2 separate regions of the Homo sapiens genome follow, and region 1 is linked to region 2. Evidence: fine-mapped expression QTL. Tissue or cell type: tibial nerve. Region 2 holds a variant in brackets; the other region holds the start of a gene. All regions are shown on one strand. Distances are from middle to middle.

Region 1 (8,105 bases), 23 kb after region 2:
CCCAGGAATGGACTCCCCTCTGACCTCTCCAACCTTACCAGATACTTCCTATGTCTCTAAGCTGCTCCACTGGGGCAGGATTGGAAGATGTTAGTTACCTTTACCAGGCACCTGGCCCGGTACTAAGCACTTTGTAGAGCTTATCATCATCCTCACAGCCACCTGTACAGGAGATAACACGATCCCCATCTTTTCCATGGAAAAACTGAAGCACAGAGAGATTAAGTAACTAGTCTCAGGTCACACAGTCAGTAAGTGGTGGAGCCAGAATCTGAATCCACATCTGACTCCAAATCGTGAACCTTGGCTATACTGGAAAGGAAGGAGATGTTGATTTGGAAACTGGGGATTCTGCAAGCCTAGCACAGGCTACTCGCACGTGGATGCACCTCCTCCTCCCTCTCTAAGGCTGCTGGAGGGAGGCAGGTCTTGGTGAGATTGACAGGCAAGGAGACTTCATTGACAGAGACACTGCCCTCCAGGCCCTGCCCTGCCCTCAGTCACAGCTCTCTGGCCTCAGGCCACTCCCCTCTGCTCCTCTCCGGGCCTCAGTTGCGGAAAATGGGGATAACAATTCTGTAGTAGATGCTTTTGGCACTCTCAGCCCCCTCTGCTTTCAGCTGCACCCGACCCCACTGACAGGCTCTCCTATAGCACAGCCCTGCCTTTCCACCCGTAGCTCAGGCCTTCTCCAAGAAGAGGGAGCCTGCCCCACCCTGAGGCATGTCTCAGGGCAACTCTTGGCCAATGCGGGACAGGAACCACTGGGCCCTGCCTGCAGAGGGCTATGCCTGGGAGCATCCCTGCACTCGTCAGGGTCCTGGCTTCAGCAGAACAGCTTTGAGGCACCTGCCTGTCAGCTTCCCAACCCACTCTCCCTGCTCCCTCCTTCATGCCTGCTTCAGTAACCGCCTCCCAGACAAAGCGCCTGCACCCAAGCCCTGGTCTCAGACCCTCCTTGCAAGGGATCCCATGGCAAATGCTGCCCTGCCCAATTGTGACGATGCAGCAGACCACAGGTAGAACAGTGTGGAGGTGTGAGTGCTGCCTAGGTGGAGCTCTCGGCCAGCGTGGGGCACTTGGTGAAGTCCATTGGCCACCTCTGACAGGTGTTGGCCTCTTCCCTAGCACTGACAATGAGAAGCCCTGCCAACACTCACCTTCCACCCAGCCAAGGCTGAAATGCCTTCTATCCCAGGAGCTTCCGAACTGGCTTCCTGTGAGTATTGGTTGGCTTTCAAACTGGCTTCCTGTGAGGTGGGTGCAAAAGTAATTGCGGGTTTTGCCATTGAAAGTACTTTTGCACCAACCTAATATGAATGTTCTACAGAGGTGTTCAGCAACCCCAGGGTCACAGAGAGTGGATGGAACAGGTTGAGAAAGAGGAAAGGACTTGACCGGTCAAAACTTAAACGTGAGAACAAATCTAAAAGCCATTGTCACGCACTGTGCACAGAGCCCTGCATGTGCGGACAATGGGTCAACTCACTCCCGGGACTGGGTTCAGCCAGGTCTCTCTTGGGTCTCACCTGCATGGGCACAATTCCAGGAATGCGGTCCTTGGCATTCTCAGGGATATGGGCTGCCTTCAGGTGTGGGTCTCCGGAGAGCATCTGCAGGTCAGCCCCCAGGATCTCGGCTAGGGCCACTTCTGAGGTCACCCTGGAGTAGCGGCTCTGCAGACCGCTCAGTTTGGTGGCCATCTTGGCCCCCAGCTCGGCAGAGGCATAGTTATCAGCCACCAGCTTCCCGGCCGTCTGCAGCACCGTGGGCACCTTGGCACGCAGAGCCACTATGTCCTGGGCTATGGAAAGGGCTTCGCTCATGGGCACAGTGATGTCGGGCTCCACACCAGCCAGGTCCCAGGCCTTGCCTGTGGTGGCACTCATGGCCATCTGGGTGGGCATGGATGCATATAAGGGGCTGCTGCCCACCTGGTAGATGCCCACAGAGAGTGCGCCTCCGGCCGTGGGCTCCCCAATGACCGTGGCCCGCTGCAGGTCCTGCATGGTGTGTGCAAAGGCCTCGGCCGCAGAGCCACTGGTGTGGCTCATCAGGATGTAGAGGTCCTTGTGTGAGCCGTAGCGCTGGCCGGCGACCTGGGGCAAGGTCCACACCTCCGTGACTTTTGAGGTGGCCCTGTCAAAGACAGAATACAGGTGCTGGCGGGGCTCTGCCTCAAAGAAGTAGGAGCAGAGCAGCGGGATGGCCGTGGAGTAGCTGCCAGGGTTGTAGCGCAGGTCGATCACCAGCGCAGCCGTGTCCACCAGCTGTTGCCATACCAGCCGCACCAGCTGTGGCCCCACGGCCTTCACTGTCTCCAGTTCAGCCATGGCGTCAAAACGCAGGTAGCCCAGCTGGCCGGGCAGCACCTCTGTCTTGAACAGGGCCTCAATAAGGTAGGTGAGCTCCTCTGGAGAGGGGACAGCAGGGGGTGGTGGGGGTGCTTCCTCTACCACCAGCTCGCCAGGGCTGTGGAACACTAGCAAGCGGTGGTCCCCAGACACCTCCTGGAGGTCTGCTGTGAGCTGAGAGGCCAGAGACTCCAAGTCCACAGCTGTGCGGTAGGCGCCCTGGGCCAGCTTGGCCCGCAGGAGGGCACTGGTCTGCCCCACGACCTCTGGCCGAGCATAGTGGGCCTCCAGCAGGTGCCCTGTGCCCTCCACCAAGGCCCCCAGGCTTTGGTGGAACTCCAGCACTTCCTGGGCTTTGTCCAGGGCCTCCTCGGCCAGCACGATGGCATCGGGCACCACTCCACCACCCAGCCAGGCCTCGCCGTGATTGTCGATGAAGGTGAGGACCGGCACGGTGAGCGCGAGGCTGCCTTCGGGTGTGTCCAGCAGCGGCACCGTGCGGGTGTGCAGCAGGTTGCCCGCGGTGATCTCACCTACCAGTGTGGCCCAGCCCAGCGACTGCATAAGGAAGGCGAACTCCTCCGCGGCCGTGGCGGTGCGGTGGCTGGTGAGCAGATACACCCCACGTTGGGTGCTGTAGCGTGGGCCCGGGAGCTCCATGTGGCTGAAGTGCTCCTGCGTGATGTTGGTGCGGCGATCATAGGTGGTGAAGAGGTGCACGGGGCCGGCCTCAGGGCCCTGGAAGTAGGACAGGAGCAGGGGCACAGCAGAGGATGGCCCTCCAGGGTTGTGGCGCAGGTCCATGATGAGGTGCTCCGTGTCCTGTAGCGGCTCCCACACCTGGCGCAGGACATATGGGGCCAACACACCCAGGACGGAGGCGTCAGCAAAACTATCGAAGCGCAGGTAGCCCACATTGCCTGGCAGCACCGACACCTGGAACACAGAGTCCACCAGTGCTTGCCGGATAGCCTCGTCCTCAGGCAACTCTGGGGCCACCCCTGGTGAGTCTTCGGCTGCAGCGTCGGGCGCGGGCCAAGAAGGAGTTTCTGTGGGCCCGATGGCTCGCACCAGGAGCCTGGGATCCTCAGACGCAGCCTGCAGGCCGGCATTGAGCTTGGTGACCAGATCTTCCTCGGAGACCACCGTGGAGAAGTCCATGCTGGCCAAGTGCTGCAGCAGGGTGGGCACACGGTCCACCAGCGTGTAGTAGTCCTTCAGGACCTCCTGGAGGCAGTGGACTACCCCTGGAAGGGCGCTGCGCAGAGTGAGGATGGCCAGGGCTTTCTCCAGGGCCTGCTCGGCCGGAGTCCCCACACAGGGCAGCACCCCGCTGCCCTCCCACGTCTGGCTGCCTCCACCAAGGGGCCCCAGGGACCTGGACACGGGCACCGTGAAGAAGAAGTCAGACTCGCCTATCCTCAGCTTCCGGAGGTCCAGGGCCCCTCCCCCAGTCCGCTCGCCCACCACGATGGCCCTGCGCATCTGCTTAAGGATGTGCGCGATGTCCTCGGCCACGCCCCTGGTCTGGCTGCTGGTGAGGACCACCACATCCTTGTCGGCACCGTACCTTTCTCCCAGGACCTGGGGCAAGGTCCAGATCTCCGTGGTGGTGTTGGAGGGGCGGTTGTAGATAGTGTCCACGTGCAGGATGGTGTTCCCTGGGTGCAGGTAGGAGATGATGTAGGGAATGCCAGAGACCTGGCCTCCTGTGCAGTGCCGGAGATCCAGCACTAAGGCGGAGGTGCCCATGAGATTCCCCCACACGTGGGCCACCAGGAACTCCCCCATCATGCTCAGCACCTCCTGGCCCGGGACGCTGTCCACCCGCAGGTAGCCCACATTACCCTCCAGAACCTCATGGCGGAGGCCCCTTTGCAGCCAGGCAAGCAGTTCCTCTTCTGAGAGGCTGGTGAGTGCTGGGACTTGTGGGGGAGGCTCGGGGGTGCTGGGCTCATAGGAGATGACCAGGCGAGGATCGTTCAGGGAGCTCTGCACCCCGGCTGTCAGCACACTGGCCAGCGTCTGCGGGTCTGAGATGCTCAGAATCTCATGGCTCTTGATGGCCTGCTGGATGGCTTCCTGCATGCCCAGCAGGTTCTCCGGGAAGCAGTAGTTATCCAAGAGGACCTTGGCCATGTCCAGCACCAGGCTTGGCTGGAACAGGTGTGTGGGGCCAGCCAGGCCACAGAGCAGCACGGACATGAGCAGAACCCATTCTCTCATCATGGGGACCCAGGGGGAGGCCTGGCTCCTGCACAAAAGCTCCCTGGACTGTGTGCAAGGCCGTGGCCCTGCTCTGTGCAGCTGCCTTCCGCCCTTGTCCTTCTCAGCTGGTGGACAGAAGGTCTGGGGCTAAACTCCTGAGTTGGGGCAAGGCTTCCAGCTCCAGTAAGCCTTTAATCCTGTCTAATTCAAGCACATCAACCCTGGGTATCGGGGAGGAGTGGCCAGGGTGGTTTGACCCAGAAGGTACATTGCATCTTATCTTGCTGTGTTGTGTCTGCATATCATAACATTAATCACTGCCATTATTTTAGTTCCTGCTACATGCCAGACACTGTGCTCCATCCTTTACAAGCTGACAGTTTCCACCAGAGCCTTGCAAAGTCCAGTTATTAACTTGCAAGTCCTCCTTGGAGAACTGTTCTGCCACTGTCTCTCCCGTGGCCTCAGGGAAATGTCTTAATTACTTATTGTGTAGATTAAATGAGAAAATATGTGTAAAGCACTTCTTCCCAGTACCCAGTAAGTAGGAAGCACTCATTACTGGTAAGTTATCTGTATTAGATATTACCTCTGTTTCATAGCTAAAAAACAAAAAAACAAAAAAACAAAACAAAACAAAGCAAAGCAAAACAAAACAGGCCAGAGAGTTCTGTAACTAATAGAAGCCCATCGTTTTAGGTGTGGACAGATAGGGGGTGCAGCAAGAAGAAGTCCTTGGGGCTACAATTGGCCCATACAGTGCAGAGGCTGAGTCTGAGGCTGGCATCAGCCTCAGAGCTTGAGATTTATTTCTATGTCCCTTTAATGCCTCCAGGGAACAGAACGGGTCCCCCTACAGCTTTCTAATGCTGGGAATGATGTGTCTGGACCACCATGTAGGGTGTGGAGTGTAGAGGCGCCCACCTTCCAGACATCACAGGACTAGTGTTCCCATTCAAATGAGGTTAGCTCTGAGAGTTAATGGCTAGAGGGGACTCCTGCTTCTTGAAGGCTCAGCCCACAGCCTGCAGTTCGCAGGGAGAATCAAGCAGGAAGTCTTGGGTCTCCGTGGTCCCAGGCTTCACATGGAATCCAGATCATTCCTCCTGACTGCATAAAGCACAAGAAACAGGGAAAGGTAGACTGCTGAACTCTTCAGATCCCAGCTCCTGCCACTTCTTATAGAAATAATGTGGGTGCTGCTTGCAACTGACTGGCTGTAGAAATCCAAGAAGTCCTGCTATGGGGTCGGAACCTGGAAGCCCTGCTTTGCCGCTGAATGCCTCTGGAGATGGGCACTTTCCTCACTTAACAGACAGACAACTACGGCCCAGAGAGTGGTCGCAAGGCCAGGGCAGAGCGTTGGGAGAGCTGTCCCAAGCTGGCTCCAGCAACACCGCCTTGGCTGAGCGGGCAGCAGGCAGGCGCCCCTGTGTGCCTCAGTAGGCAGCTGGAGAAGGTGGTCTCAGGGACGTGGGCTTTCTCTACACAGCTGAGACCCACAATCTGCTCTTTGGAAATCATTATCTGAGGATGTTTACCAACTGCTTTATGAAGGCCAAAGAGGTCAATTAGCTAAAACAAACATATTTTTAGCTCATTAGGATTTGTGTAATGCTCAAGTGACATATGGTCACATCACTCCACCGTATGCAGCCAATGGAAGTGAGCCTGATTTACGATGAGAATGGGGTGGGGCTGGGATGCTGCCAACACCTCCGGATGAATGCACTCCTTGCATATCCTTAGCCCTGCTGGGAAGCCTGGGCCTTCTCCTCTGCCTCCACTTGGAGAATCACAGTTCTGAGCATGCACTTCCGTGTCCTCAGAGGGCACTTGTCTGCCATTGCTTGAGTCCAGGCAAAGCTTCTGGCCCAGAAAGGGCTTGGGGGAGAACAGGAGTAAGACTGTCTTTGGGGAAAGGATTCCCTGGAGTCTTACTAAGATGTAGTTTCAGGATAGGATTGTCTGGACCTATCACTGGGATTTGATTTGTGTGGCTAGCCCAGAGCCTTAAGAAGGACGTGAGAAAAAATCAGACTGTTGCAAGTCCCTGGGGTGCCTGAGTTGGATGGGGCATGGGTAGAGAAGCAGTGCTTCTCCTGTGGGTAAGGCCCAAGCAGGTGGAAGAGCAAGTTCTGTCCTCAGAGTTCTCCAGACTCCAGGGGGCCAGGGTGTCCTTGCCCCCAGGCCGTGGGGGGATGTAGGAAGATGGCAGCCAGCCTCCTTAGCTCATGAGGAGAATATGTTCTGGGTAAGTCCCCAGAGTGAAAGCCGAGAGCTCTACATCTTCCCATCCAGACCCTGACAACTGTAGGGCCAGGGTGGGTTCAGAGAGTCCACTTGATCTTGGGGGCTGAGTTTTGGAGTTGGAGGGGGCTGGAAGGCCCTGCACCCCCTCACTTATACAAATGTCCTGTGGGCAGAGCTGTGCAGGGTAGCTTAGAAGCCATCCTGAACTGAACTGGTGAGAACTGAATAGGTGAGTGGGTGAGATCTTGATAAGGTGACATGAGACCTTGATCAGGCGACATGAGACCATGATTAGGTGACTCGACTGCTCTGAGCCTTGGCTTCTTCAAAAGGGAAAACAGAATAAGGAGAAAAGCCTCAGTATTGCTGGAGGATTAGGTGTTTCCATCCTAGAAGTTATGAAAGGAAGTTGAGGACGTAGGAGTTGGTGAGGGGCAGCTTGGGTCTGCCTGGGATTAGAACACCCCTGTGGTATTAGGGAAAGTCATTCCAAGAGGCTGGGGCTGCCCTGGAGACCTGGAGTCCTAGGGCTTCTTAGGCTCCAAACCTTTCCTGGGCCTCTACATATCTAAGGAGAAATGACCAGACCCAGGCTCCAGAGCCCAGCCCTGCAGCACCTGCAGCGCAGGTTAAGAGGGGGACAATGACACATCAGGGCTGCTGCAGGGATGGTCAGGGAGCAAGCGGAGCTGGGCAGTACAGGAAGGAGCGTCTTGCCTATTGCATCACAGATGTTGTCTTTTCAGTGGCCAAAGCCCTCGTCTGTCTATTGTTTTATGTTAGTTTTCCCCTCGATGTTTTATAATGGAAATGTTCAAGTGGTACAGCAAATATCTATATGCCATCATTTAAAGAAATGCTTTGACATGTTCACATTTTAAAGAACTTATCCGAGCAGATAGCGATTCATGAATCTGGTAGCTCCCCACAAGAGGCAGTTTGGGGCTCTGCAAGGGAGCACAAGGGGAGGCTTCCACAGGGTGAAGGCAGAAGTGGAATAAATATTACAGATGCTTTGGTTGCTTAGCGTTTCGGCCCTTGCATGATTTGGGACATCCTAGTGGAAAGTTCGAGACCATGCAACTGATGTCCAGTTGGCCATCAGTGGTTGGCTGGACTTAAGCTTCGGTTTCTTTTAAATTAGCTGCTTACAGTAAATGAGTCTGAGTTAGATTTCAATTTGCTCTTGTAGGAAATCAGGGCGTTAGAGCCACCTTAGTTTAATGGCTGCCTCCCTAGATTCTACCACAGACATTTTATTACCCCTTTCTCATCTCAGCTCCGCCTCAC
Region 2 (8,105 bases):
GCAGTCCATGGTCCATCCCTGATCTTGAAGCATTTCTCCCAAACCACTCAAGTGGGCTTGTCTCCATCCCAGGTCCTGTTACGAAGAGGTGTTTTTCTCTCTCATTGCATGTGGAGCAATACTTCCATGCTATTCATCCTGTTATCACAGAATAAAAGAACGACTGTCTCCCCTAAGAGATATGGTGTGGGTCCCTGTGGCTAGACCATGTGATCTTACCCATAAACAGTCCTCACAAACACTCTCGATTTACGTCTAACCCACTCTTGTCACTGCCTGGCATTCGCGTGTGCCGTTCTTTCTGCCCTCTCTTTTCTTTGTATCTGTCTGCCCTTTGGAGGCCTCCTGCCTCTTCCAGGAGGGTCTCTCTGATTATTCTGGTGCCCAGAATTAGAAAGTATATGGGGTACATGCTGTGGTGTGTGGTAAGTGTTTAACAGCTGGTTCTCAGCATGTAGCTGCAACATGGATTTTGGGTGATATTTTCATTTACAATAAAGTGTAAGATGAAAGTGGAACAATGAACATATGTCAGAACTTCACTTGTTTGTCAGTGATCTAAATAACTTCTTTCCTAAATCACATAATAGTTTCGGAATACTAGAAGAATAGTCCCTCAGCTTTTTGTGAGCTATTCACAATATAACAGCTATCGACAAGACAAAAATTTCAGTTTAATCTGCATTATTGACAATTTTTTTCCATTACTTTCTTAAGTCCAGACAATGAACAAAACAAGAAATCAAGCCTTGATTTATAGCATTTCCATAAATAATCCCATTCTGGCTGATTCCCTGATTTCTGGCCACTCACGATATCCCTGGATGTGGCATGAGGAGGAGTGGACCGTGGCAAGCCCCCGCACCGGCAGGTGGAGCAGCGTCCACAGCGTAGGCAATGGGAATGTGTAGTAGAATGACTAGGAAATGATGGGTTCTGAGTATGTATTGCCTGTGTTTTTAATATAACTTCTTTGACTGTAAGTTTGTATAGTTTAGTTTTGAATAATGTCTGAGTTAAAACAGCTAACTTGAAACATTCCTGATCATCTCACAAGCCACTGTGAGCTGGCTCCAGCACACCACTGGCTGCATACCAAGAAAATCAAGTTGCAGGCAGAGACGAAAACCTTCAGACAGAATTGCGTGGCTGTGTCCACTCAGTTTCGTCAGGGGGTGAGCTTTATTAAGTGCCACAGTAACAGATACTGTCATTGGTTCAGTCAACAACTGTTTCTAACCCCATCTCACTTGGCTTTCCTGCACTGCAGAGGTTGGGAAGCTAAATCCATGTTTCCCAGACTCTTTTGCAGCCAGGGTGCAGGCCTTTGACACAGATCCTCACAAGCAGCCAGATACATCACCCAGCCCCGGATGTGCAGTCGAGTCCCATGAGCTGAAGTCTTTGGCATGCAGGTGATATCTGTCACTCACGGTGGCAGGGACATCTGGACTTGTGGGGTGGCTGTGGTGGACTTTGTAGGAGTTTGGTCCCTTGTGATTGGTGCTGGTACCAGCAGTTTCTACTAGACAGTGCCAGGGCATGGTTAGGCTTTTTTTTCTGGCTACCCTGACCCTTGGAGAGCTCCCAAGCTTGGTCTCTGGCTCTCACAGGGATTTAATGAGCTGCATGATAGCCTTTAATAAGTTCCTTTCTGTTTAAACTACCCAGGTAGAGGCTGCTGTCTGCAGGTGGGAAGCCCTGATTGCTGGAACCTAAGGGATGTGAGAAATCACTGTGGAGTGTCAAGGTAACCAGGGATCTGCTCCTGGGACCTATTAATCCACCTCTTTTAGAAGGAGTCCACAGTCCTGTTTGTATTTGAATATTCATGAACATTAGAAGAGCAACTTAGTCTGGGTATGGCTATGGCTGACAGAAGTATCATGCTGTGTCACAGCTGATTATTAGATCTGCATTTTTTGCCCTTTAGCTTGTCAAAATAATGTCTAAAAAACCAGATTGATCACAAAAGATGCATCATAATGCCACATAAAGATGTCACTCGGCGCCTTATAGTATTTAGGACCATAGAGGACACCTGGTGCAGCCTCCTCATTTTGCAGCTGAGCAAGATCTTTGAAGGACAAGGACCTGCCCAAGGCCATCTAGAAACACTGAAGTTGAGACTCATACCCGAGCATCTTAGCTTTTGCCCACCCCACGCTGTTTCTCAGTCTTAACCAGCAAGCTTTCCTTGTTATTTTGGTTTGTCTTACGTCTAGGTTTGATTTGGCAGCACATTTCAACATCTGGTGAAGGCATGGGAATAAAACAGTGTAGGTGGATGGAGCACCTAAGAGCAGAATGTTTGGTGTTCTCTCAGGGTACACTGGGCAAGGCCTGCTGGGCCGTCCTTCCTCGCCATGCTGCCTGCGTTTATTCAGTTAAGAAAGTGGCACATTTTGTATCTTTGAGAATGCAACTATTTTAGTTAGGAGAGTGATGTTCCGTCTATGGAAGACTTTGCCTCTCTCCATCTTGGGCTTGGAGAAGGTGTCCCATGTCCCAGCAGCATGGCTGTGTACAGTCATTGATTCTTTTGTTTACTTCTCCATGCCGTACATTTTGTTCCTGTCCCTTGATCACAAAGAAATAAATGAACGTTCCTGAGGCACTGACATGGGCCGGGTGAGGTGGGAGCCTCCTTCTAGATATTATTATCCTATTTAAATGCATTATGTTCCCACTCATTTCACGATTGCCCAGTATTCAGAGAAGTTGCATTACACAACTGAAGCTCCATAATAAATGCGTGGAGGTGAGATTCAAACCCACGTCTTTCCCATTCTACTTTTTGTGCCTTTCTGTTTTAATTTGCTTCTTGGTATTCCTGTGTATTATTAATAGTCTGAAGCTTGGAAATAGATGCAATAGTCATTAGAGTGAAGAAAATACAGTGCCGTGCTCTCTGAAGGATAACAAGGACATTTTTGTTGTAATTACTATTTTGATTTTTCTTTTAAGAATGTTGCCGAGGAAGGAAAACAGAGGGAAAAACCAGCAAAGCTCACTGTGTCTAACTTTTGCCACATGCATGGACCTAATTTCTTACTTGCCAAGCACTAGAGCCTTTATTTTTGAGACTCTGTGAGGGTGGCTGAGTTCTGTGTGTTTGCTGGGGTTGGAAAAATCTAGTGTGATGGGGGTCAGTGGCCCCATGACACGCCAAGGCAGAGTAAGCCACAGAGCTCAGTCTGCCATAGGTGTGGCTTCCTTCCTTCCTCACATCTGTGTCA[A/G]CACCCGGCAGGAGGTGCCTGATTCCAGTGGGGATGAAGCAGCCTCTGCCCATCCCTCCATCACCCATCAAGAGCTCTGGACACACATGAGGTTGAACCCCCAGATGGTGGCTGCCAGGGGAGTGTGTCCACCTCTCACTTAGGCCAGGTGCGTGGCATCTCACTGCGGCAGGCATCCCATGGGCGAGGTCGGTGCTCTCCTGATGTCTTTGATATTTTTCTTTATCTGGCCTAGTCTGAGACCAGTACTTTCCCCTGCCTGTGACCCCTGACTTCATTTGCAAAGTTTTCTCATGCACTTTCTGAAATTTTCATGACAGAGAGCCCTGGAGGAATTTGGGGCAACGATGGAGGTGGAAGAAGGTTTAAAGCTGGGAATCTTTATGCATTTTCTCTGTTTTCTCCTTCTCTTTATTTTTTTTCTTGACCTATACTTCACACTGGTCTCTGTCTTCTCCATGCTTAGAAAGCAGAGGAGGCTTGAGCTTCCAGCAAAGACCTTGCGACATGTTACTGGATACAGGCTGGTGCATAGAAGGGGTGGGTGGGGAGGGCTGACAGGAGGGTGTCCCTCCCCTGAGCATCACCGGCTCTGTTCTTGGCCAGTTGCTCTTTGTCCCCACATTTCAGGTTCTCTTCCTGCATTCAAGCATGGGCAGGGCCAGGGCTGCTGTTTCAGGACTGCATCTAGCCCTGAAGTTTTCTCTGGGCCTCCACAGGGGACCTTCCTACTCTGAACTCCACATGCATTCTCCAGGCCACACTGCACACTCACCCTACTCTCCAGTCATTTCCAACTACTTAGAATTCAGTCAGTGTTGAGAGTCACCAGTCTTATGTAGACTGGAGCCTGGCACATAGTAGGTGCTTTTTGCATGTTTACTGAGTGAATGAATGAACAGAAAATGAAATGCACTTTGCCTAAAAGCTGATCTGATCTGATCTGAGTGCCCAGGCATTTCACCCTTCTTCCAAAGCTCTCCTTTTGTTCCTGTGGCCCAGGGAATGCTCAGTTCCAGGCTTGGCAGAGGAGGGGTCTCTCTAGGCAGTGTGAAACAGACTGTGAAGCCCCCATGAGAAATAGTCCACCCACTGGGAAGGCCCCTCCGCTCCCAGGAAACTCCAGCCAGAGCACTCCAGCGTGGGGGCTAGGACTCCTCTTTTCCAAAGGAGAGTAGACAGTGGGAGGAATTCACCTCAGAATGATTTCCTGGAGCAGTTAGGAAAGTAGCATCTCTGAAGTCACAGAGGCTTCAGCTCCACTGGGCCGTGAGAATCCCTTACAGAATTCTGACCCCGACCAAGCAGAAAAGGGCACTGCCGCCTTTAAAACAGTTGACTGCAGAACAAAACAAAATGCTAAAATAAGACTAGAGTAGTTTGAAAATATTGGAAAGTTGAGAAAAAACTCCCCCAAATTCCATGATACTAGCATCATCATAGTATATAGCACATTACATATATAGTGTATTATATGGTATATTATGTATACATACTATGTATACTATATGTTATATGGTGTATGTACATAGTAAAAATTATTTTTCACATATCTATTGCTTTGGTATGTTTTCTTTCATGTTTTTGTTTATTTGGTAGATAGGCTTTTTTCCTGTTTTGTTTTACAACATGTTTATATCTGACACTAACATTGTATTATAAGCTTTTTTTTCCCATACTATTGCGTAGTCTTTATAGCCACACTTAAAAAATGAATCATTTATTTCTAAAAACAGTCAGGTCCATTTTATTTTGGCTTCTGGATCCTGCCCCTCCCCGGGCACTCTCCCACTGCAGAACTATGTTAGGCTCAGTTCCCCAGAGAGCCCTCAGGTTTTCCACACCACAGGCCCCATGCAAGCTTCTTGTGAACCCTGGGCAGTCCCTTCTGGGTCCTCAGAGCTCAGTTTAGATGCCACCATTGCCTGTTTGCAACACTGGCACATGTGCAGGTCCCTGTGTTCTGTACAGCTGAACTCAGGACTGCCTCATCACCACTGTCACTACCGCGCCTCGCACAGGGCCCGCATGCTGCATGCTCTCAGTGAATGCTTGCGGAATGAACGGAAGAGGGAATCAATGAACAAATGACCTGGTGGTCATTTTCTGTGTTTCCTCCTGGGGTTTTTCCTTTGGTGTATGCATTTTGTGTGTGTGTGTGCATAGAATAGGTTACACCAAATCTATAATCTTTTTGTCCTTTTGCCTCCTCAGCATTCGTTCATAAGCATAGCGAGCATCACTGTCCGAGGCTGCACAGTGCTTCGTCTTGCGTATGCATCCTGCTTTGTTCACCATGTCTCTGGAGTTACGCATTTACTTGCTTGTTGCTTTCACCACTATAAACCATGCCTCATTTCCCTCTCCTGTTAGGCAGATCTGACCCTTCAGCCTGCCTCTTCCAGCCATGGTCAGACTGTTGTTAGTCCAGCGCCTGAGGGAGAGTACTTTCAGAGTTCCAGGCCCTTGTGTGACCTCCACCCTTAAGGTGACTCTTGGCACCCACAGGCCAATCAGCTGTATTCTTAGAGAGCTCTCAGAATACAGGCTGGTGGGCTATTTCCCTAAGGAAAAGCTGGGTGGGTTCTCACTGGGGTTGGAACCAAGGGGAGATGAGGAAATGGGAATAGGTTGGACGCCCTTGGTGGAGCTTCATAGTTTGATTTTACATCAGAGTTGGAAAGCAAAGCATACCCTTCTGCTACAGCTAGTGGTTTCCCCACCTGCGCCTGAGCTATGGACTGGGCAGGGGCCAAGTGCCCAGCAAGGAGCACAGGGAAGGAGCAGGAGGTGGAGAAGCTCAGAGGCAGGCTGCAGTAGGCTCCTCGCCCTTCTCACCATGCGGATGTCTCCTCCCTTGGCCCTATGGGAATATGGAGGGCTCACATTCTCCTCTCTGTGCAGGAGCAGGTCTCCACACTCTTTGGGAGGAGGAAGTTGACTTCTTTCTAACAGTTGCTGTCCTGTCATTCATTCATTCATTCATTCATTCAGCAAAGGCTTCCTGAGCTCCTGTCCTGTTGCAGGCTTGATTAAGTACTACAGATGTGAAGGTGAATTGACATATTTGGGTTCTTAGAGTTTGCCTTCTAGCAGACCACAAACAAGTAAATATAATGTTGCACGTGGTGCATGCAGGCCTTTGGTGCCCAGGACAGTGAGGGCATGGAGGAGGGAGTGTTGTCTGTGTCTGAGAGCACTGGGCAAGCCTCAAGGGGAGACTGTGCCTGAGGTGCATTTTGGAATGAGTTCACAGGTACGATGGGAATGAAGCTGCCCACATGTACTTGGGAGTTGGGGGAAGAGTGGGGACACTTGACTCTCACAAGAAGCATGGCTCTGAGAAAATCAGAGACCGCGCAGAAGCTGACAGGGCATGTGATGTGGACAAAGGGGCCACCAGGCTGGGAGGCAGGTCTGGTAGACCGAGGAGCAATGGGTTGAAATTAGGGTCGGGACAGAGAGGGCTGCATGAGGAGCAAAGACCATGAAGTCCATGGTCCTCCAACACTGCGACCCTCATGCTGCGGCCTCCCTGTGCCCTCAGCACTCAGCCAGGGCCAGAGGTAGCTCGAGCATGGAGCAGGGGCTGAGGGTGCATGGCTTCCTCATGATGGAGTCTACTTGTTGACAGATGACCCAGAAACTTCTGAAGGGCCCCCAAGGCCCTAATGCAGCCCCCAGAGCAGGCTCTTTCCCTTCCCCTGCAGACTCTCCATTTCATGCCTGGTTAATCCCCAGGAACCACTTTTGACAGGGGAATCCTACGTTTCTCTCTACTGAGCTGTAGAGGCTGCTGCCCATGGGCATTTTCAGCAGAGACCTCAGTCCCTACTCTGCCTCAGGGAGGTGGGCCCTGGAGGATGGTGCCATCCATGCTCCTTGTCTCCTGAGAGGTGGTGCAGTCAGCACACCCATCCCACAGACAGCGGAGGAGGCCTGAGCATCAGGGTCCTGTCTGATGCCAGCTCATGATGCACTGTGCCTGAGTGATGAATGCCCATCTCACTGCCTGTCGCTTCCTCTCTCTGCAGGGCCCTGTGGCCGAGTGTGTCCAGCCCAGTGTCATGGGGAGCTTCCATATCTCATGGCTCCTTGCTGGGCCAAGCCCTCCAGAACCCCAAACCCCCAAAGACTGATGAATGCCAGAGTGGCCACCTTGCTTATCTGTGGCCCCGGCCCTGGTGATCACCATGGCAGCTGGGAAGGGAGCCCCGTTGAGCCCATCGGCTGAAAACAGATGGCGACTTAGCGAACCTGAGCTGGGCCGGGGCTGCAAGCCAGTGCTGCTCGAGAAGACGAACCGCCTGGGCCCTGAGGCTGCTGTGGGCAGGGCGGGCCGGGATGTGGGCAGTGCGGAGCTGGCACTGTTGGTAGCCCCAGGCAAGCCCCGACCTGGCAAGCCGCTGCCCCCGAAGACACGTGGAGAGCAGAGGCAGAGCGCCTTCACGGAGCTGCCGAGGATGAAGGACCGGCAGGTGGATGCTCAGGCCCAGGAGAGGGAGCACGATGACCCCACAGGCCAACCTGGTGCCCCACAGCTGACCCAGAACATCCCCAGAGGCCCAGCTGGCAGCAAAGTCTTCTCTGTGTGGCCCAGCGGAGCACGAAGTGAGCAAAGAAGCGCCTTTAGCAAACCAACCAAGCGACCAGCAGAGAGGCCTGAGCTAACCTCAGTCTTCCCTGCAGGGGAATCTGCAGATGCCCTGGGGGAGCTGTCTGGACTCCTCAACACTACAGACCTCGCTTGTTGGGGTCGACTTTCAACTCCCAAGCTTTTGGTTGGTGATTTGTGGAACTTGCAAGCATTGCCACAGAATGCTCCACTCTGTAGCACTTTTCTGGGTGCCCCTACACTGTGGCTGG

Which allele goes with the higher level. Positions count from the first base shown, and alleles are read on the strand shown. Sizes are in standard deviations (SD) of each study's normalised expression.
With allele G in place of A in region 2, the expression in tibial nerve of the gene that starts at base 4,705 in region 1 is lower (small effect, 0.36 SD a copy in GTEx).

The links. PIP is the estimated chance that this variant, and not a neighbour inherited with it, causes the effect. A credible set is the group of variants that fine-mapping cannot tell apart.
Region 1: RBP3 starts here. The variant in region 2 is the best candidate, but not a certain one, in a credible set for the expression of RBP3 in tibial nerve (GTEx, PIP 0.80).

What each region holds. Positions count from the first base shown.
Region 1 is chr10:47,344,963-47,353,067 of GRCh38, reverse strand. RBP3 (retinol binding protein 3) reads right to left here and starts at 4,705. Exons shown (of 4, transcript NM_002900.3): 1 at 1,530-4,705. The coding sequence starts at 4,583.
Region 2 is chr10:47,368,106-47,376,210 of GRCh38, reverse strand. It overlaps ZNF488 (zinc finger protein 488), which reads left to right. Exons shown (of 2, transcript NM_153034.4): 2 at 7,274-8,105. The coding sequence starts at 7,382. Among named protein-coding and RNA genes, the nearest start is that of ZNF488, 12 kb to the left of the region's middle. The variant A/G (reference allele first, on the strand shown) is at 3,240.